Homo sapiens: one gene and its partners. The protein of the gene in region 1 purifies or fractionates together with the protein of each later gene. This does not show direct contact. Each region holds a gene or a part of one and is shown in the gene's direction. Other genes may lie near its edges. The genes, in order: H2AP, SCCPDH, SYMPK, RAB5A, NCEH1, PTGES2 and CCDC51.

Region 1 (2,212 bases):
TTTGAAAATGCTTGGATTTGAGACTCCTTTTTCTTTCCACTTTTTCCCTTGTGGAATGGCAAAGTTATTGGCTGTAAATGAACCAAAGTCAAAGGGAAAACACAGAATTAGTAGAGAAGAAAATTAAATAATAGAAAAGAAACATCTCTTAGTGCTTTGGCTTCACCTAGGAGGGACAAGAAATACACATCTGGGCTTAAACTGAGCACAAGATGCACTTCTCTATCAACTGTTTACCTGGCACTGACAGGTAAACTTATTGAACATCTTATTATTATTATTATTTTTGAGACCGAGTCCCGCTCTGTCTCCCAGGCTGGAGTGTGGTGGCACGATCTCGGCTCACTGCAAACTCCACTTCCCGGGTTCACACCATTCTCTGGCCTCAGCCTCCCAAGTAGCTGGGACTACAGGCGCCCGCCACCACGCCCGGCTAATTATTTTTATTTTTATTTTTATTTTTAGTAGAGACGGGGTTTAACTGTGGTCTCGATCTCCTGACCTTGTGATCCACCCACCTCTGCCTCCCACAGTGCTGGGATTACAGGAGTGAGCCACTGCGCCCGGCTGAGCATCTTATTATTAATTGAAAAATGACTAAAATATATTTTTCAAATGGGGTAAAATCATGACACTCATACAGATATGAAATGAACACATGCTAAAAGAAAAAGATGTTATGACTGCTTCAAAAGGGAAACCAAAGAGTTGATATGGGAATATTCATCAGTAATATTAAATGATTGTGTAAATGGAGGCAAAACTGGTTTCATAAGGTGAAGAACAACCGAACCTCTACTAAAGAATATGCTGTACATGTATCAGCAGCCTACAACTAACAAAAGGCTATAAAAGACTTCACAGATAATGTAAGGCTGGAATCAGATAACCTGCAGTGGTGTCCTAAAGACAGAGCAAAGTTTTCCACTGAAGCACACATTTATTTTTATAATGTCAAAATCAGGTAGAGAGTTATAGTTCCCTCAAAATCAAGGTTCAGTCATTAGCGTGACTAGATCAGTGTCATAGACATTTCTAGGCTGAGGTCTGATAAGGGACCAGTGGACACCAATGAAATCACAAAGTCTAGGGATGTCACAAAGGCAGCTAGCTCCCTGACCAATAAGGGCCTGGAGCAGAGGGATACAATAGGCAGGACTAAGCACTAGTGTCCTCAGAGACCTACTTGAGCTAGAGAATCAAGCAGAGCTGATGAGAGCCAAACCCAGCAAACATCATGTCAGAGAAAAAGAACTGTAAGAACTCGTCTACAAATAACAACCAGACTCAAGACCCTTCTAGAAATGAGCTACAGGTCCCTAGGAGCTTCGTGGACCGCGTTGTGCAAGATGAACGAGACGTCCAAAGCCAGAGTTCCTCCACAATAAATACCCTCCTTACCTTGCTCGATTGCCTTGCTGACTACATCATGGAGCGGGTAGGCTTGGAGGCCAGCAACAATGGCAGTATGCGCAACACTTCACAAGATAGGGAGAGAGAAGTGGACAACAACCGTGAGCCCCACAGCGCTGAGAGTGATGTGACTCGCTTTTTGTTTGATGAGATGCCCAAATCCAGGAAGAATGACTGAAGACTGGGTCCCAGAGCCTTGAAGGGAACCTCACAGGCTTAGCCAGGGCAAAAATGTGTCACAGCTGAGGAATATCTGCTGTTGTCATCAACAAGTGCTATTAAAGGATGTAAATCCATGAGTATGTTTCTGACTCCTCTCAGTTTCTGTCGCTTTGGGTTGTAGGTGTCTGTAAGACATCCAGGGGAAGCTATCCCCAGAGAGCTGAAGGCGGGGAAGGGGTGGCCAGTGTGGTGTTTGAATCAGTGATTTAGAGGGGGCAGTTTCCAATGGTGACAGTGAGGGCGCCGGCCCTGTGGGGAGGAACTGGCTGGGATAAAGACACCGAGACTTCCTCATTGTCTCTGAACAGGAAGGCCTTGTGAGGCCAGGGAGTTGGCTGGGGGCCTCTGAGGCTTGTTGAATTCCCAGCCTGATGCTGGGGCCTGAGGTGGAGCTGCAGACTCTGACTGAGGTGCAGGAGGCTTTATTCAGGATAGCAAAGGTCTGAAGTCAGAGGGCGGTGGCCACAGGGGTGGGTGGAGAGGGGCACACTGGCTGGCATGAAGTTCATGGGACAGGGGCTTTACATGGAGATTGAAGAGTGAAGGAGAAACCATCATGAAAAATGCAAAAAAGAAA
Region 2 (3,500 bases), on another chromosome or scaffold:
TTATTGAATAAATATTTATTGATGCTTACCACATGTGAAATGCACTATTGTAGGCACCTGGGACACAATGGTGAACAAAACAGAAAATCCCTCGTGGACATTACGTTCTTGGGGAAGACAGAAAAATAGGATTGTAATAGGAGGTAATGAAAAGTGCTTTGAAGAAAAGTGAAGCCAAGAAAGGAGAAAAGGTCCTGGCATATTGGTGTTTTTAGATGGATGGTCAGGGAAGGTTTCTGTGAGGAATTGACATTTGAGCCAAGATCTGAATGAAATGAGAGCAAATTGCATGAACCTTTTGAGGAGAGACTTTTCCAGGGACAGCAGGCACAAAGGTCCTGAGATGCCAGTGTGCTTGGCAAGACTGAAGAGTGTGACAGAGGCCAGTGTGGCTGGGCATGGCAGAGAGGTGGAGAGTGGATCAGAGAGCAACCCGGGAGCTGGGTCATGTGGGATCTTACGGGCCATGGCCAGGATGTGGATTTTTTTTCCAGGTGTGACCAAGAGGCGTTGAATGGTTGAAAGGAAGGGCTTCAGCTGATTTAAATTGGAAGTTCTTTGGCTTCTGAGTGGAAAAGTAGATAACAAAGGATGAGCAATGGAATGGTGCAAGCACAAGCCCTGGGGTCGTAGTGGTGCTGAGAAGTAGTTAGGTCCAGAGTATATTTTCAAAGGAGAACGGCTTTTGCTGTTGTACTGTGAAAAAGTCATCAAGTCACAGGCCATCAGACTTTTGGCCTGTGTAACAAGGTGAATGTTGGTGACATTTAGTGATCTGAAGAAGCCATCACAGTTGGCAAGATGTTTAAAAATTAAATATCTAAAATATTAATAATTTTTAATTGAGAGCAAAAGGGTTTTTGAATTGCTATTAAATAGAAGTGTTGTTGATTTAGATTCATCTCATTCTTAACTAGCTTAGATTCCATCCATGAGGTCCACTGCTGCACTCTATAATGGACGCCCTCATCTATCTCCCTTGCCTTTTTCTCCTCAGTACTCTGGAAAAATCCCAGCCCTGGTTATTCTCTGCCTGCTCTTCACCTGAACATGAGTAACACAGTGTGGCTGGAGAAAAATGTATCCCCCTGCTAACTGGTCACACTTCAAATATGTGTTTACAAACGTTGTGTGGTGCTTAGCACCTCCGGCAGCTCTGCTCTATTTCCCTCAGGAATTCTCTCTCCTGCTCTCTGAAGCAGCTCACAACCTTGTTTTCCTTGAACTTTTAGTATCCCGTCTCTCTTTCCTTGTTCTTATCTGATTTTATTTTTCTTTTTTTTTAACTATGAAAATAGAAGCTGGTTAATAACAGAATTTCTTTCTTCATCTTCCTACCACCAGATCTATCTACCTACCTACCTGTCTGCCAATCTGCATCATACCCTGTAGTCTGCCATATCTCTTGTTACAAGGAAAAACTGGTCCTCTTCCTATTGGGCACAGTTTTCAAAGACTTTATTATCGGGGGAACCAGCCCCCAGTATTTCAACATAGGTTCTTTTCTATTTTCCCTAAGTGTCAGCCAGTCTGAGAAATAAAGAGAAAGAGTACAAAGAGAAATTTTACAGCTGGGCCTCTGGGGGTGACATCACTTGTTGACAGGTTCCGTGGTGCCCCTTGAGCTGCAAAACCAGCAAGTTTTTATTAGGGATTTCAAAAGGGGAGGGAGTGTACAAATAGGGAGTGGGTCACAGAGATCACATGCTTCAAAAGGCAATACGGTATCACAATGCAAATGGCAGAGCAAGATCACAAGGCCAGGGCAAAATTAGAATTACTGATGAGGTTCCATGTCCCGCTGGGCACGCACTGTCATTGATAAACATCTTAACAGGAAACAGGGTACGAGAGCAGACAACCAGTTTGACTAGAATTTGCCAGACTGGAATTTCCTAATCCTAGCAAGCCTGAGGGTGCTGCAGGAGACCAGGGTGTATTTCATCCCTTATCTTCAACTGCATAAGACAGACACTCCCAGAGCGGCCATTTTAGAGACCTCCCCCTGGGAATGCATTCCTTTCCCAGGGTTATTCCTTGCTGGGAAAAGAATTCAGTGATATTTCTCCTATTCGCTTTCTGCAAGAAGAGAAATATGACTCTCTTCTGCCCAGTCGCGCAGGCAGTCAGACATTATGGTTATCTCCCTTGTTCCCTGAAAATTGCTGTTATCCTCTTCCTTTTTTAGGATGCCCAGATTTCATATTGTTCAAAGACACATGTTTTACAGTTTGTACGGATAACTCAATCATCACAGGGTCCTGAGGCAACATACATCCTCAGCTTACAAAGATGACAGGATTAAGAGATTAAAGACAGGCATAGGAAATTATAACAGTATTGATTGGGGAAGTGATAAATGTCCATGAAATCTTCACAATTTATGTCCAGAGATTGCAGTAAAGACAGGTGTAAGAAATTATAAAAGTATTAATTTGGGGAACTAATAAATGTCCATGAAATCTTCACAGTTTATGTTCTTCTGCCGTGGCTTCAGCTGGTCCCTCTGTTCGGGGTCCCTGACTTCCTGTAACACTTTATGTTTACAATTACACATTATCTTGTTATCAAATTTCTCCTCTTTACTGGATTATTTCAATCAGCATTTAAATATGTGATATCTCCCATATTTTAAAAAAAGCTGCTTGATTCCACATACCCTTCCAACTACTCTACTTTTTGTGCCCCCTTTTTAGCAGCCTCCTTGGAAGAATTCTCATGACTCACTATCTCTGCTTCTTCACCTCCTACTCTATCTTAAACGCCTCCTATTGGGCTTTTGTTTTCCTCCCTCCTCCAATGAAACTACTCTGCTAAAGTCCCACCCTGTCAAATCCAGTCTTCATCTGAAAGCTTGCAGCATTCGATCCAGCTGACCACTTTCTCCTTTCTTTGCTCAGCTTCTACGTTGTCATCTTCTCGTAGTTTTCCTCCTGTCCACCAGCTTCACCCTGGAAGTCCTCGTCTCCTCCACTGCGTCTTTGTCCTCCCCACTCTAAATGCTTGAGGCCTCAGCGTTTAAGCTTTAGAACCTCAATAACCTCATTCAGGCATTAGGTTGCAGTAAAGTGAAAACGACTGAATGAATGAAGAGTGGTGCTGAGGCCCTCTCTGTGTGATGGAAACTTTCCCACAACCCCATCAGGATACCTGCTGTGTCCTGTCTTCAACACATGACCACTTAACATGGCCCAGGGAATGTCTCGTAGTCAGTCCATATAGTAACCGTTAACGGAACGTCATGTTTTTGTAAACATTAACATGGATAAAAGTTCTGATATTTACTTCCACCCTCAGTGGATCATTCTGCGCTTCCCTTAGGGGAAGACTACTTGGGAGACCACTGGGTTAGAAGATGGAACTTTGAGGGCCAGGCGCGGTGGGTCATGCCTGGAATCCCAAACCTCTGGGAGGCTGAGGTGGGCAGATCACTTGAGGTCGGGAGTTTGAGACCAGCCTGGCCAACATGGTGAAACCCTGTCTCTACTAAAAATACAAAA
Region 3 (3,500 bases), on another chromosome or scaffold:
CTGAGGGCTGGGCACAGTGGCTCATACCTGTAATCCCAGCACTTTGGAAGTCCAAGGCGGGAGGATCGCTTGAGCCCAGGAGTTCAAGACTAAGCTGGGCAACATATGGAGACCTCATCTCTACAAAAAAATACAAAAATTAGCTAGGTATGTTGGCATGCGCCTGTAGTCCCAGCTAGTTGGGAGGCTGAGAGGCTGAGGCAGGAGGATTGCTTGAGCCCAGGAGGTCAAGACTGCAGTGAGCCCTGATTGCACCACCGTACTCCAGCCTGGGTGACAGAGTGACACCCAGTCTAAAAAACAAAAACTGCTCATCATGTTTCCAAAGTGGCTGTAGCATTTGCTGCTCCCCCCAGCAATGAATGGCATTTCTAGTTTGAGCCTCAGTTGTATTGAAAAGTGGGGATAAAAAGAGTACCCACTCCAGGACAGTGTTGTGTGGATTTAAACGAGGTTTTGTGTGTACAGGGCTCAGAACAGAGCCAGGCACACAGGAGGTCCTCGGGTTGGAGCAGGTGGGTCTGACGCACTGGGTGTCTGTTTGCTGCCTCCCCCTCAGGTGTAGAGCAGACCAAACAGTGCAAGGAGGAGCCCAAGGAGGAGAAGGTGGTGAAGACAGAGAGCGTCCTGATCAAGCGGCGCCTGTCAGCCCAGGGCCAAGCCATCTCGGTGGTGGGTTCCCTGAGCTCCATGTCCCCCCTGGAGGAAGAGGCACCGCAGGCCAAGAGGAGGCCAGAGCCCATTATCCCTGTCACTCAGCCCCGGTGAGTCCTCTTCTGGGTGCTAGGGCAGGACAGGAGCCCTACCCTGAAGGTCTGGTTCTCAGCTCGTGTGCGTGTGCGTGTGCGTGTGCGTGTGTGTGTGTAACTGAGATGCAGACAGAAGGAAGTCTGGAATAGGTTCTCTCTGACTCCCGAGTCAGTGCCATAACCACTAAGCCTTTGCTGTTCTCTTTCCTGTAAAAAAAAAAAAAAAAAATCCTTTTTTATGTCTAAAATTAGGATAATGATAGTATCTTTCTCATAAGGATCAAAGAAGAATTAAATTAGTTCGTGGTAATGGTGATGGTTAGGTAACTAGATACTCGAGTGAAAAGTGATTGTGATTGTCAAGCATTTCGCGTGGTTCCTGTTGTGTAGTAAATGCTACTGGCTGTCATCATCATTGTCCCCATTATTACCTCCCTTACACACCACAAAATCCAGCCAGTCCCGGCCACCCAAGTCTTTTTATTATTTATTTATTTATTATTTTTTTTTGAGTCGGAGTCTCACTCTGTCTCCCAGGCTGGAGTGCAGTGGCGCGATCTCAGCTCACTGCAAGCTCCGCCTCCCGAGTTCATGCCATTCTCCTGCCTCAGCCTCCCGATTAGCTGGGACTACAGGCGCCCGCCACCACGCCTGGCTAATTTTTTGTATTTTTAGTAGAGACGGGGTTTCACCGTGTTAACCAGGATGGTCTCGATCTCCTGACCTCGTGATCCGCCTGCCTCAGCCTCCCAAAGTGTTGGGATTACAGGCGTGAGCCACCGTGCCCAGCCCCAAGTCTTACTAACACAGCTGAGCGGGATCTGCTACCCTCCGAGCTCTCTTCTGCTACCCTCACCCCTCCTCCACTCGTGCCCACAAGTCTGTTCCCACCTAAGGGCCTTTGCCTGGAGAGCTGGTCCCCCAGACATTTGTGTATCTTGTCCCTGCCTCCGTTCAGATCCCCACTCACAGAAGCCTTCCGTAAGACGCCCTCTGCAAAACCAAAATAACATCCTCTTCCTTCCTCTTACCCACCGCCACACCGTGCCTCAGAGACACAGAGGAACTGGAGAGGCAGCAGGGGGATGGGGGCCATCTCTGTTGCCTACCTAGTCCTTGAAGTTGGGAGAGTCACCAGACAGGCCTTTGCTGCAGTCTGGGTCACTGCATCTCTGTCACTGCTCTTCCACACAGGCTGGCAGGCGCTGGTGGGCGCAAGAAAATTTTCCGTCTCAGCGACGTGCTGAAGCCCCTTACCGATGCCCAGGTGGAAGCCATGAAGCTGGGCGCTGTGAAGCGGATCCTGCGGGCTGAGAAGGCTGTGGCCTGCAGCGGGGCAGCCCAGGTGTGCGCCTGCCACCCCCCACCCCATCCTTCCAGTCCCTCTACCCAAACGTCTACCTCACATCCAGCGAAGAGTCTGGCCCTGGCGTCAAACCTCCCTGGCTGCGGACCCCAGCTCTGCTGCCCACAGCCGCTTCTCCAGATCACTCCCATCCTCCATAAAACAGAGACAGTAGCAGCAGCTCCTCCTGGGTGACGAGGAGGAAATGTGCAATGAGCACAGGCACTCAGGTGCACAGGGCAGGTGCTGGGAGGCCTCTGCAAGTGAGGGCTGCTCTTGTGGTCTTGGTTCTTCACGGTTGTTAACGTTCTTACTGTTACTATTTAGCTTTAGAAATATACCTGGTTCTCTGTCCTGATTCTGCCACTTGCTGGCACTGTTACCTTCAAAGAATGGGGAAAAGTGACTTTTTCCCCATTCTGTGAAGTTAATTGTTGATTAGCCAGTAGTATAGGAACATACTCCCTGAGCTGAAAAATATTTCCGGGGAATCCAGATCCAGTACTCTTCCGTGGCCATCACCTGCACCCCATCCCTCTCTTCAAAGGTGACAAAGGCACAAATGAGGGGAATCTTTGAGGATCTTTTTCTGTGCACTTAAGTACATGGGTGCTGCTCCTAGAAACTCATTTTTATTCTGTGATGATCGATCCCCACCCTGGTACCCCCACCCCCCAACACACAAACGGGACCTTCCTAGGCATAAGGGTCCTCGGCTGGCCTTCCTCGCTTCACTCCTTGTCTGCTCTGAGAGTTCCTGCGTCTGGGTGGGAGAAGTCGCAGGGCACGATTGCGGAGTCCCTGGATTGCCCACCCTACACTGACATGCTGGCTCACCCTCCCACCAGGTCCGCATAAAGATCCTGGCCAGCCTGGTGACACAGTTCAACTCGGGCCTGAAGGCGGAGGTCCTGTCCTTCATCCTGGAGGATGTGCGGGCCCGCCTGGACCTGGCCTTCGCCTGGCTCTACCAGGAGTACAACGCCTACCTGGCCGCAGGTGCCTCGGGCTCCCTGGACAAGTATGAGGACTGCCTCATCCGCCTGTTGTCTGGCCTGCAGGAGAAACCAGACCAGAAGGATGGGTGAGGGGGCTGACCCTGCACCCTCCTGTCCCCGAGAGGCTTCCTCTCCTGGTGCTGCCCTCCCTTTCTGATTGCGACCACCTCCCTCTTCGTCACCCCCCGAGTCAGTCCTCCTCGCACCCATCCCAAGTCTCCTCTCCTCCTCCCCCTCTGGAGGCACGTTCAAGGTTGTAGTTTTGCATGTGGGCTCCAGGTCGCACTCCCTGAGCTGTTCCTCAGCTCTGCCACTTGCTCTGAGCTTGCTCTGCGTGGCTTTGTCACTCCCTCTCTCTGCCATTTTCCCATCTGTAAATAACAGTGCTCACCCATGGGCCTGGAGATA
Region 4 (3,500 bases), on another chromosome or scaffold:
TGAGGCAGGAGAATCACTCGAACCCAGGAAGCGGAGGTTTCAGTGAGCCGAGATCGCGCCATTGCACTCCAGCCTGGGCAACAAGAGCTAAACTCCATCTCAAAAAAAAAAAAAAAAAACACTATAGTAGTATTTTAAAACTTTAGGACTTTGAGAAATCATGAACGTCTTAGGGTGTATTATGTATATCAAGAGTTTATTATAGTGGGCTACACTATTCCAGTAATATTTCTGTTCATTTAGTACTGTAGCACTTTTCATTTTTTAAAGTATATTATAAAACTGATTTTCCCTGGCCTCTAATGTTGGTCTTTTCTCCCCCAAAATTATGCTTTATCATACCACATGAACAGTAGTACGGTGGTGGTGGTGGTGGTGGTGGTTGTTGTTTTGAGACAGAGTTACACTCTTGTTGCCCAGGCTGGAGAGCAATGGCACAATCTCAGCTCACTGCAACCTCTGCCTCCCGAGTTCAAGTGATTCTCCTGCCTCAGCCTTCCGAGTAGCTGGGGTTACAGGCATGCACCACCATGCCTGGCTAATTGTTTTTGTATTTTTAGTAGAGACGAGGTTTCGCCATACCGGTCAGGCTGGTCTCAAACTCCTGACCTCAGGTGATCCACCTGCCTCGGCCTCCCAAAGTGCTGGGATTACAGGTGGAAGCCACCGCACCTGGCCCAGTACAGTGTTATCAGGTGAAAAATATCTTGATGTTGTTTTTGAGGTTGTGTTACAACTTGAGTAGATACCTTGTGAAATATCTATTTTTTCACATTTGGGAGCTGCCTCTCTCTACATTCAAATGTTATCTGAAGTAGCCTCTAAATGGTTCCATGTATCTTTTTGAACTTCCTTCTTTTAGTAGACATTTTTGAACATCTGTATGAACAAGGATTTATATTAAATGTTGGTACAGAGAGGAGCTACTACAAGTTGAGCATCCCTAATCTGAAGTCTGAAATGCTCCCAAATTCTTCGAGCATCAATATGATGTCACAAGTGAACAATTTCCACACTTAACACCTTTGCTTTCTGATGAGTCAGTGTACATAAACTTGGTTTAATGCACAAAATTATTTTAGCTTCAGGCTATGTGTACAAGCTTTATGTGAAACAAACGAATTTCATGTTTTGACTTGGATCCCTTCCCAAAAATATCTCATTATGCAAATATTACAAAATCTTTAAAAATCCAAAACATTCCTGGTTCCAAGCATTTCAGATAAGGGATACTTAACCTGTGGTCATTGCTCAAGTAACTCCCAATCAAGGAGAAGAAAAAGATATAAACCAATGATTATAAAAGGTGTGAAACGTTATTACACAGAGAACTCTGGGAGCACAGATGTAGGAGATATTAACTAGGGTGGAATGAAGGAAGGTTTCTAAGCAGAGTTGAGGAATGAATTGATTATCTTCTTTGTTAATCTGAATGGGATCCATTCCTGTTCAGCATGATTTCCCTTGGTTTTGTTCCTAGATTTAGGAATGATGCCCTGTTTTGCCATAAGGAAGAATCTCGTGTGTTTATTAGGAATGGATATTGACTCAAATGCCTTTTTGTAATTTGTTTAAATAAAATGGATTTTTCTTCATTAGCCTGTTAATGTAATAGTTTTGTATTTCTGAAAGAATGTACTTGGTAATGGGCATTTGTTTGTCTTAATGTATTTGTTGCAATTTCTTTGTATTTGGCATTTTTGTACATGTATGGTGTACATGTATGGTGGCCTCTTGTGTCTTTAACTGGCTTGAGAATTGGATCATATTTTCTTTAAGGCAACATCTCTAATACAGTTGGCCCTCTGAATCTGTGAGTTCCACATTTATAAATGCAACCAACTGCAAGTTGAAAATATTAAGGGGGAAAAAATTAACTTAGCTCCAAAAAGCAAAAATTAAATTTGCCACACACTTAATACTATGTTGAATCTATGTGGATGACGTGAGGTGCAGGCATTGTATTAGATATTATAAGTAATCTAGAGATGCTTTAAAGTATACAGGAGGATGTGCTTAGGTTATATACACATACTTTGCAATTTTATATCGGGGACTTGAGCATCCTCAGATTTTGTTATCCATTGGGGATTCTAGAACCAGTCCTTCATGATATATGGGGAGGTCCTGGAAACAGTCCTCCACAGATACTGAGGGATGACTATAGTTATTTCCCTGAGCCTGAAGTTTACTTATGGACGTATAAGTGAATGTTTTTAGTACTAGTAGACTTTGTGATCATAGTATGTCTGAAAAATGAAACAGTCTGTGCACATTTTAATTCCTTTTTTTTTTTTTGCAAGTCTGCATCAAACTATACTTGAAAAAAGGCTTATGTATTGTGACTTATTTTCCTCTTTTCCTTTTTGGTAAGAGTACTGTCTTAGGGACTTAATTTTAGTTTAAAATTTTAGTTTAAAAACATTTTTTGATCCTACAGGAGAACCTCTCGTGACCTTCAAAAAGTGACATAGTGCTGTCTGGATATCCTTTACCATAAATACAATATTTTAGAAAATGGACAATTCTGCTAATTGTTGGTTAAAAAAAAGTTTGAACTGGATTAGAATATATTTACAATGTGATTAATGAGAATTCATAAAACTATTAATTAGAATCTAGGTCCAAATGAAGATGTTTACAGTATTGTTTGCAAAATTCAGAAGATTTTAGTTGTTGATACTAAAGCCAGCAACCAGTTAACCTAAAAGAGCGTGAAAAATAAATGTTGTGTCTAACGTAAAAGAGATATATCTCATTAGACTTTGTTTCTTTAGCACATTTGATACTGGTTAGTACATCTCTATCAACGTCACTAGATAAACGGCTGTAATTTAGAGAAATATATCATAATTCTTTTGCATAATATGACAGTTTTAGAAAATGGTAATTCAAGTGCATACCAATTTGGAAATAGGGCTTGAATATCACACCTTGAGCTAAATGTAGAAGGAAGGGAGGAGCATACCAATTTACAGTGAATGATAGAGCAGCAGCAGAGGGCGGTCTAATGGCTGTGTGTAGGTCTTTTAATTTTAACAATATTGTATCATTTTATAATGCTACTTTTTTTTTTTTTTTGAGACAGAGTCTCTGTTGCCAGGATGGAGTGCAGTGGTGCGATCTCAGCTCACTGCAACCTCTGCCTCATGGGTTCAAACGACTCTCCTGCCTCAGCCTCCCGAGTAACCGGAACCACAGGCAAGCGCCACCATGTCGAGCTAATTTTTGTATTTTTAGTAGAGACAGGGTTTCACCATGTTGGCCAGGATGGTCTTGATCTCCTGACCTCGTGATTTGCCTTCCTCAGCCTCCCAGAGTGCTGGGATTACAGGCATGAGCCACCACGCCTGGCCTATAATGCTACTTTCCTAGTGTTAAAATTAGAATCAGGGAAAGTACAGATCCAAAAAATTCTTATGGCAGGGAATGAAAGGTAGGAGCAAATATTGAATCAACTGAACAAATTAAATCTAGGTTAAGGTAATAATGACTACCAC
Region 5 (3,500 bases), on another chromosome or scaffold:
GTCTGGCAAAACAGAAATGTGTAAGGCAGAAACCTAAACTTGAGAAGCTTACAGTCAAGTGAAGGATGATAAACCAACTGCCAGTGATAGGGTAGGTGCTTGAATGATGGAAGGAAAATGTGGCTAAAGGTAATAATGGTGTCCCAAGAGAGCTCGGAGCATGAGCCTGGCTTGTCTTGATTATTTTCTAACTTACTACTGCTTACACTATGAATCTTTTCAGTGACACAATGTAAAAGAAGTGCTGAAATTGGTATTTATGCTGAGTGTTCCCCCTGTTTCTTATGGGTGACAGTGCTTTTGGACTAGTTGATCAAGGATTTTTATCTTGCCAAATGTCCCCAAACTTGTTGAGATTTAATGTCACCTCACCTGAATTCTCTGTGCATGATGTGCTTTTGGGCTGTGTGGGTGTGGTTTAAATGACAGCTCAGCTGGAAACTGTGCAGAACTTCAACGTGCTAATAATCTCTTTCATAACAGTTTTGAACTGGAATATTTACTATTGTCAGGTGAATTTAACTTTAAAACATCAGTAAATAATGATTGTCCAGAAATTATGATGATGCGTATTTCTTCATGCACATTAGTAACTTCACTAACCACAATTTTTAGCTGATTTGCTAGGATTTTTCTTTAAACATATGGAGGCAAAAGGTTTTAAGAATAGTGTCAGGGGCATTATTTAATCAGTGTTAGTTCTGACAGGTGAACAACCTGAGTTGGTCTCTGCAGATAGTACCTATGAAACATTAAGGTCAGATTGATTCAGCTACCTGGTGTGTAAGATAATGCCCAATTTATAGTTTCCTTTTTATTTTTTCTGGTACTTCTACAAATATAACCCTGAGCATAGAAATACCCTCATTATTTTAATGGGACATCCTATTTCTACCATGCAATTTGAGCTTGATCTGAGACATTTCTGTGAAGTGTGAAAGTACAGTTAATCATTCTTAAATGTTCTTTTTATGCACAATTGCTTCTTTTAAAATAGCATTTTAAAATAGCATATATTTACTTTTTTTTTTTTTTTTTTTGAGACAGAGTCTTGCTCTGTCACTCAGGCGGGAATGCAATGGTGCGATCTCGGCTCACTGCAACCTCCGCCTCCCAGGTTCAAGCAGTTCTCCCGCCTCAGCCTCCCGAGTAGCTGGGATTACAGGCCCCCGCCATGATGCCCGGCTAATTTTTTTTTGTATTTTTGTAGGGATGGGGTTTCACCATGTTGGCCAGGCTGGTCTCAAACTCCTGACCTCAGGTTATCCACCCGCCTTGGCCTTCTAAAGTGCTGGGATTACAGGGGTGAGCCACTGCACCCAGCCATATTTACTTTTCTAAAGAAAATATGTAACACTGCAAATGTGTGTCATCCTTCTGCAGGGGCATGCTAGTCCTCTCTGAACTGTTATGGTTTTAGTGTATGTGCTGCTGAAGTGAGCACCATATATTTACTTTTGCTGCCAAATGAAATTATGTGGGAACTGTCTACCACTTCTCTTTCATTTTATGTTTATATAGAATGAAGAAATGTAATTGAATTTATTTTCGTTTTTTACTTTTTATTTTTTTCTTACAGACAAGGTCTTGCTCTGTCACCCAGGCAGGGATGCAGTGGTGTGATCACAGCTCACTGCAACCTTGAACTTCTGGGCTCAAGGGATCCTCCTGCCTCAGCCTTTTGAGTAGCTGGGACTACAGGCGCGTGCCACCATGCCTGGCTATATTTTTCTTTTTTTATTTTTTAGGAGAGACAAAGTCTTGCTATGTTGCCCAGGCTGGTCTCAAACTCCTGGGCTCAAGTGATCCTCTTGCTTTGGCTTCCCAAAGTGCTGGGATCACAGGCATAAGCCACCGTGCCTACCTGTAATTGAATTTTCAAGTGAAAAACCTGACTATATCGCCTGCCTAATCTAAGGTGTGTCATATTGTGAAATTTTAACAAGCTCTCTTTCAGTGTTTAATAAAATTAAAACCCTGGACGTCATCACATATTAAATATTAAGGAGCTGGTCTGGCAAAACAGAAATGTGTAAGGCAGATACCTAATCTTGAGAAGCTTACAGTCAAGTGAGGGATGATAAACCAACTGCCAGCGATAAGGTGGGCACTTGAATGATGGAAGGAGAATTATGATAGAGGCATCTGTGGATTGCTGCAAGAGCCTTGGAAAGAACATCTAAAGTGGACCTGGGCACTGGGGAAACGTATCTAATCTGAGATGTCAAGGTTGAGTGCCTATAGTAAAAATATCTATTGAGCATATAGTGAGCATTTACTCTGTGGCAGATACTGTGCTATGTGCTTTGTGTTCAATTAGTTTAGCCCATGGTAATACAATCAGGCAGGTGTTCTTTATGTGACAAAGGAGGAGACCGAAATGCAAAGAAAAGTGACTTGCTTAAGATGACACCGTTTATACGAGGTGGAGCCTGAATTCGATTCCAGCCTGTGTTACTCCTGAACTCAAGAGTTTAGATTTGTGCTAGATTTCCTTATAATAGAAACCAGAGAAGAGAAGGGTGAAAGGGGCATTCCAGCCAGAAGCAGCAGTATGTGAAAGTTCTGTGGGAGAGGATGGTGTAGCTGAGGAACTACAAGTGGTTTAGACTGGCTGGAGCTTAAAGTTCAAAGGTCAGAGAGGGAGGCAGAAGGGAAGCACCAGTCAGGTGAGGAAGAGCTCTGTGGAGGAGAAAGGAGCAACTGACAGTCTTCTAGCAGAGAAGTCACATGCTCAAAACTGTGTTTTAGAATAGTCCTTCTCAGTGGCAGTGTAGACACTGGAATGTAAGAAAGCAAAAGTAGGCCAGGCGTGGTCGCTTACAACTGTAATCCCAGCACTTTGGGAGGCTGAGGCAGGCGGATCACAAGGTCACGAGTTTGAGACCAGCCTGGCCGGTATGGTGAAACCCAGTCTCTACTAAAAATACAAAAAAAAAAAAAAAAAAAAACTAGCTGGGCATGGTGGCACGCGTCTGTAGTCCCAGCTACTCGGGAGGCTGAGGCAGGAGAATCCCTTGAATCTGGGAGGTGGAGGTTGCAGTCAGCCAAGATTGCACCACTGCACTCCAGCCTGGGCAATAGAGGGAGACTCCGTCTTTAAAAAAAAAAAAAAAAAGGCAAAAGACCATCTAGGAAGCACTAATCCAGGTGAGAGCATGAACTAACAAAGTGGGACTGATTTGGAGGAAAGCTGATCAGAGTTGCTGTTGGAGGGGAGAGTATGGAGCATCGGAGAGGAAGGAGTCAAAGATGACTCCTGGGACAGATTCTGGAATAGCTGGGTGAATGGGGACCATGACCCTGATTTGGGAGCAAGAGCAGATCTGAGGGTGAAGATATAGAGTTTGGGACCCTGTTTTGAAGTGTCAGTGGACTAGTCCAAGGATGGCTGATCATAAACAGCTGCATATACAGATCCAGAGCTCAGGAGACAGAGCTGGGCTGGTGATATGGATTTGGGAGTAGTCAGCAAATGGATAGTGGCAGAAGTAGTTGAA
Region 6 (2,269 bases), on another chromosome or scaffold:
CGTGCGCGAGGACCTCTATGAGGCTGCTGACAAGTGGGTGGCTGCTGTGGGCAAGGACCGGCCCTTCATGGGGGGCCAGAAGCCGAATCTCGCTGATTTGGTGAGTGTGGTGGTGGCAGGTGGTGCCTGGACCGAGGGTTCTGTCCTCAGAGTGGGGGAGGTTTGCAAGGGAAAGCCTGGACGGTGCTTGCATCTTGCCAGAGGAACCTGCCTCTCTCTGCCATCACGGACAGAAACTCGCCTCGAAGTGGCTCCAGGAGAGAAACAGATGACCAGGAACCGCCTTGGTTCACATAACTGACAAGTTCAGGGAACGGGTTGGCTTCGGGCCCTGCTGGATCCAGAGGCCCGGGTGGTGTTACCAGAGCCCAAGCTCTACCTGTCGCCATCAACACTGCCCTCCCTGGAGTTGGCTTCAGCCTCAGGCGGGCTGGGTCCGGTGCTCCAGGCTTCTCCCAGAAAACCCCTGGGAGGGCGTCTCACTGGCCTGGCTTCACTGCCCTTTTTCCTTTTGTTTTTTTTTGTTGTTGTTGTTTTTGTTTTTTTTTTGAGACCAAGTCTCACGCTGTCACCCAGGCGGGAGTGCAGCGGTGCAGTCTTGGCTCGCTGCAACCTCCGCCTCCCAGGTTCAAGCAATTCTTCTGCCTCAGCCTCCTGAGTAGCTGGGATTACAGGCCTGTGCCACCATGCCCGGCTAATTTTTGAATTTTTAGTAGAGACAGAGTTTCAGTATGTTGGTCAGGCTGGTCTCGAACTCCTGACCGCAGGTGATCCATCCACTTTGGCCTCCCAAAGTGCTGGGACTACAGGCGTGAGCCAGCGTGCCTGGCCCACTGCTCATTTTTAAAACTGTCCTGCCCCTGGGTGACCTGGGTCTTGAAACTGGGTGGTGGGGTCTCTTCTCCCCCATCTCAGGACCTGAGATGAGGGGAGGGCATTTATCCCAAGGAAACTTGCTGGGGGGCAGGGTCTGTGGCCCAGAAAAGGGGGTACAGATGTGAAGCAGGCGAGACCTGCAGCCACCCCACATGCTTTGTTCAAACCCTCACCTGTGCTGTTGGCCCTTGAGTGGGTCACGAGCTCCAAGGGGGGAGGGGACGGGACCTGGCCACACAGCTGGCAGGGAACGAAGGAGGTCTGGATGCCTGTCAAACCAGCTATGGTGACACGTTTCTGTTCGTGCCCCAGGCGGTGTATGGCGTGCTGCGTGTGATGGAGGGGCTGGATGCGTTCGATGACCTGATGCAGCACACGCACATCCAGCCCTGGTACCTGCGGGTGGAGAGGGCCATCACCGAGGCCTCCCCAGCGCACTGAATGTCCCCGCGCAGAGCAGAGGGAAGGCAGCGGAAGACGCCAGCTGCCAGGGCCTGGGGCCACTGGGCCAGCGCCTGGCGATACTGGTTGGGGGCAGGATCATTCTGCCCCTTGTCCACGCACCCCCACCAGCCCTCTCGCTTCTAACACAGGGCACCTGCTGGGGCTCAGGGATGTTAGGGACGAGTTCCAGCCCTGCCACTGCCCTGGGGCGACCCCTCCCTGTCCCTGCCTCCCTGCTCTGCCGCCCCTCTTCCTGGACCCTCAGTGGCTGTCCCATGGCTACATCCTGTGGGTGGGGGCCCTCGACAGGACAGCAGGACGGTTTGTTTTCAGTGGAATCCCATCCCTGGGTTCCCCTGGTTCCCACTCTTCCCAAGCCTCCCGGGACTGGGACATGTTTGCAATAAAGGAAAGGTTTGTGGCGCCTGTCATGGCAGGCATCTCATGGAGCTCCGTGTGGCTGAGTGCTGCGTGGGGCTGGCGGTCAAGGGAGGCATCAGGCTTGGGCTGTGCCAGCCCTTGTGGTAACTAACCGCTGGCCTGGGGCTTCCCAGGTGTCAGGCACGGTACGGCTCCGCAGGCTTTGTGTGGCATCGTCCCCAGGATACCACTCAGGGCACACAGCTGGGCCGTGGAGCCCAGCAGCCAGAGTGCAGGTCGGGGCACCCTACCCACGGTGGGGCTCTGCAGTGGGGTCACTCATCAAGCCTCAGTTTCTTCGTCTGTCCCCGCCTTGTGGGAGAGTTCAGTGATAGGAGCAGGTGCAGTGCACAGAGCCGGGTCACCTGGTCCAGGGCACCAGGCTATTCAGACCCCTGCTCTACAGACAGAACCAAGCCCTCTCAGGTGGCGGCCCCGGGCTTCAGCTCCAGGCTGGGCCAGGCTTTATGGGAGAAGAGGCTCTGCCTTCCAGGGTGAGTGTGGGTTGTGGGTGGGACCCCCTTTCCTG
Region 7 (2,723 bases), on another chromosome or scaffold:
TGAGCCGAGTAGACTCGTGGAGGAAGAGTCATCCAGCTGGACAAGGTGGCAGGGCACAGACCAGCACGGTGGCTGGAGCAGAGTATGGCAGTAGAAGGAAGAGGATGAGGGCTGAGAGGTCTCAGGATTTCTTGGCCACCGCCAGGTGAAATGGGAGCTGTTGGGGGATTTTGATCAGAGGGATGTAATCTGATTTTTGTGTTACAGGGCCTTGGGCTGCCATGTGCAGAACATGGGGGTGGGGGACGGCAGGGGAGAAAGCCGAGATTGCATAGGAGACAGTAGCTGTCATCTCTGCCAGGAATGGGTGACTTTGCTGGGGTCTAAAAATGGGCAGCTAGTAGAGGAGGTGCTGGGAAAGGAGGCTGAGAAGGTTGGAGGAAGCCAAGAGGGGCAGTGATGTTGGGAAGAGAGGGTGTTGAAAGTGGTGCCAGCCATGGCGGACACTGCATGCTTTGTCTGATGAAGGATACACCTGCAGGGGTGTTATAGGATCTCAGCCTGTGTGTCATGGGTGCTGGCCTTGAGGCCTGGGAGTCTGACTGGGCTGCTGGGGCCTGGATGGTATGCACCCTCATGGGCATGGAACCCAGCCTTATGAAGGGGGCCCAGGGGTTTGGGTGTGGCACCAGCTTGGGATCACTGTCACAGTGAAGTTCCCTTCTGCGGCTCTCAGCTCAGGCCCACTTTGCCCAGAAGACATGTTTCTACCCAACCAGCTGTGTTTTCAAAGCCGCTGAGCTTCTCCAAAGACAGTTCTTAGCACAGCATGATGGAGAGGAGGCTAGGGTGCTGTGGGGAGCCTCTGTCTCATATCACCTTCCATCAGGAAGCCCCTTTCTATTCTGTATCTGGAGCTCCTTCAGTTCCTTCCTGTCTGCAGCTCCCTCTGCTTTTCTCTCTGTGGCGTGGTCTGTTGGCCACCAGGTGTCGCTCTCACAGCCAGGATCAGTGCTTAGGGACTTTGAGGTGTGGTTTGGCCAGAGGAGGGTGCTGTTGGCTCAGCTTTTTCTGGGAAAATGGGTCACCTGGCCACCTCTTTGGGGTCCTCAGAGTCACTGGCACTCTTGGGCTCAGGTGAGGCCTGATTCTGGATAACAGGAGACTCCCTGCTGTCCAGGTAATGAGAAGCAGGCCCAAACATCAAAGCAAGATGGAAAAGGGAAAGATGAGAGAAACCTAACCTGTTGAGCAATGGCAGGTTGGAGAGGAAAGAGAAAGCTTATGGAAGTCGTGAAGTGTGAGACTGAGAGTTGGTAGCCTGGAAAGTCTGGGGGCGGAGTTGTATGGCGTGAACCTAAGAAAAGTCCTCTGTGGCAAAAACAGTTTTGTTTTGTTTTTTTTTGCCCCTGGAATTATCTTAGAGGAGAGCTGAGAGTTTTCTGTCTTGGGTCACAAATGGCCTGTGTCCTTAGGTCCTTGCACAGAATTGAAACTCTGCTTCCCTTGTGCTGAGGCAGTCCTTGGAGAGTCTGGGGAGTTGGTTTTGAGGCTGTTTTACAGAAATGATCCTGGATCTTAGTCTTCCTGAATTCCCCTGAGTTCCACAACATTGCAGGGAGTATTTATGCGTCTTTGTGGGGCTTTGTCAGCATGTGTACAAGTCTGGTTTAAAAACTGTCTTTGACATCAGAAACCTGGGCACCAGGATTCTCATTCAAGTCACAGCAGAGAGACCTGGAGGATGTAGGGAAGTGGGTAGCAGGGAAGGGTCCGCTTTGTGTGGCATGGTGGCGGGCACTGGAAGGTATGGCATCCTAGAGGCTCGTCCCCAACTGTGTTCCATTGTCCAAGAGCACCCAGAGGAGAGCCTGACCATCCTCTTGCCACAGGGGCCACAGTCTCTGGGCCCAACAGGGTGGTGCTCAGTTTAGATGATTTGAGTGGGGATTAGTCTGTTCAGAACTGTCCCTAGGCCTCAAAACTGACTTATGTCCAGCCTTTCTCAGCTGTGAGCTGACCTGTCTGGCGTCCCCCTCACAGATCTCAGGATGATGGGGCGCAGCCCTGGGTTTGCCATGCAGCACATCGTGGGTGTGCCCCACGTACTGGTTCGGAGGGGCCTCCTTGGAAGGGACCTCTTCATGACCAGGACTCTCTGCAGCCCAGGCCCAAGCCAGCCCGGAGAGAAAAGACCTGAGGAGGTGGCCCTGGGGCTGCACCACCGCCTCCCAGCACTGGGAAGAGCCCTGGGGCACAGCATTCAGCAACGAGCGACCTCCACAGCCAAGACTTGGTGGGACAGATATGAAGAGTTTGTTGGACTCAACGAGGTTCGAGAGGCCCAGGGAAAGGTGACAGAGGTGAGGAGGGGAGCTGGGGTGGCTGGCCCCGCCCTCTGACTTGGGAAATGTGCCAAACCAGTCACGTGGTGCTGGGTAGCCACATCCAGACTTGTGTTTAGCCTCATTTCTCACGTGGAAACCTGGGCTTGATGCTTCTGGGGTGAAGGTCTCCATGTAACTGTGCCACCTACTTTCCCCGAAAACAGTTACTGTGTACCAGTAAGTCCCTGGCCACTAACATCCACTCTGTGAGGCCAGCAAATACTTCCTTTGTGGACCATTTGGGGATTGATGGTGAGAGTTACGTGGGGCTTGCTGCGGTACTGTTACTGTGTGTAATTACAACATCTTTTGTGAAGATAGAGGGCACTAGGAAATGTCACAGTGTGAGGTGGAAAGAGCTGGTGGTGGTTGTCAAGTCCTTTGTGGTGGCAGAAA

Evidence for each region.
Region 2: the proteins of H2AP (region 1) and SCCPDH purify together in Homo sapiens (affinity purification with mass spectrometry; one large-scale study listed by BioGRID and IntAct). This does not show direct contact.
Region 3: the proteins of H2AP (region 1) and SYMPK purify together in Homo sapiens (affinity purification with mass spectrometry; one large-scale study listed by BioGRID and IntAct). This does not show direct contact.
Region 4: the proteins of H2AP (region 1) and RAB5A purify together in Homo sapiens (affinity purification with mass spectrometry; one large-scale study listed by BioGRID and IntAct). This does not show direct contact.
Region 5: the proteins of H2AP (region 1) and NCEH1 purify together in Homo sapiens (affinity purification with mass spectrometry; one large-scale study listed by BioGRID and IntAct). This does not show direct contact.
Region 6: the proteins of H2AP (region 1) and PTGES2 purify together in Homo sapiens (affinity purification with mass spectrometry; one large-scale study listed by BioGRID and IntAct). This does not show direct contact.
Region 7: the proteins of H2AP (region 1) and CCDC51 purify together in Homo sapiens (affinity purification with mass spectrometry; one large-scale study listed by BioGRID and IntAct). This does not show direct contact.

The regions. Positions count from the first base shown.
Region 1 is NC_000023.11:37,989,603-37,991,814, forward strand, and holds H2AP (huntingtin-interacting protein M), read left to right. Parts: upstream 1-1,176; 5' UTR 1,177-1,237; coding exon 1,238-1,591; 3' UTR 1,592-1,712; downstream 1,713-2,212.
Region 2 is NC_000001.11:246,727,409-246,730,908, forward strand, and holds part of SCCPDH (saccharopine dehydrogenase-like oxidoreductase), read left to right. Parts: intron 1-3,500.
Region 3 is NC_000019.10:45,828,648-45,832,147, reverse strand, and holds part of SYMPK (symplekin), read left to right. Parts: intron 1-559; coding exon 560-764; intron 765-1,943; coding exon 1,944-2,094; intron 2,095-2,942; coding exon 2,943-3,178; intron 3,179-3,500. UniProt on the Homo sapiens protein: Scaffold protein that functions as a component of a multimolecular complex involved in histone mRNA 3'-end processing. Specific component of the tight junction (TJ) plaque, but might not be an exclusively junctional component. May have a house-keeping rule.
Region 4 is NC_000003.12:19,971,097-19,974,596, forward strand, and holds part of RAB5A (ras-related protein Rab-5A), read left to right. Parts: intron 1-3,500. UniProt on the Homo sapiens protein: The small GTPases Rab are key regulators of intracellular membrane trafficking, from the formation of transport vesicles to their fusion with membranes.
Region 5 is NC_000003.12:172,701,068-172,704,567, reverse strand, and holds part of NCEH1 (neutral cholesterol ester hydrolase 1), read left to right. Parts: intron 1-3,500.
Region 6 is NC_000009.12:128,120,193-128,122,461, reverse strand, and holds the end of PTGES2 (prostaglandin E synthase 2), read left to right. Parts: coding exon 1-100; intron 101-1,188; coding exon 1,189-1,317; 3' UTR 1,318-1,769; downstream 1,770-2,269. UniProt on the Homo sapiens protein: Isomerase that catalyzes the conversion of PGH2 into the more stable prostaglandin E2 (PGE2) (in vitro). The biological function and the GSH-dependent property of PTGES2 is still under debate.
Region 7 is NC_000003.12:48,434,397-48,437,119, reverse strand, and holds part of CCDC51 (mitochondrial potassium channel), read left to right. Parts: intron 1-1,983; 5' UTR 1,984-1,991; coding exon 1,992-2,303; intron 2,304-2,723.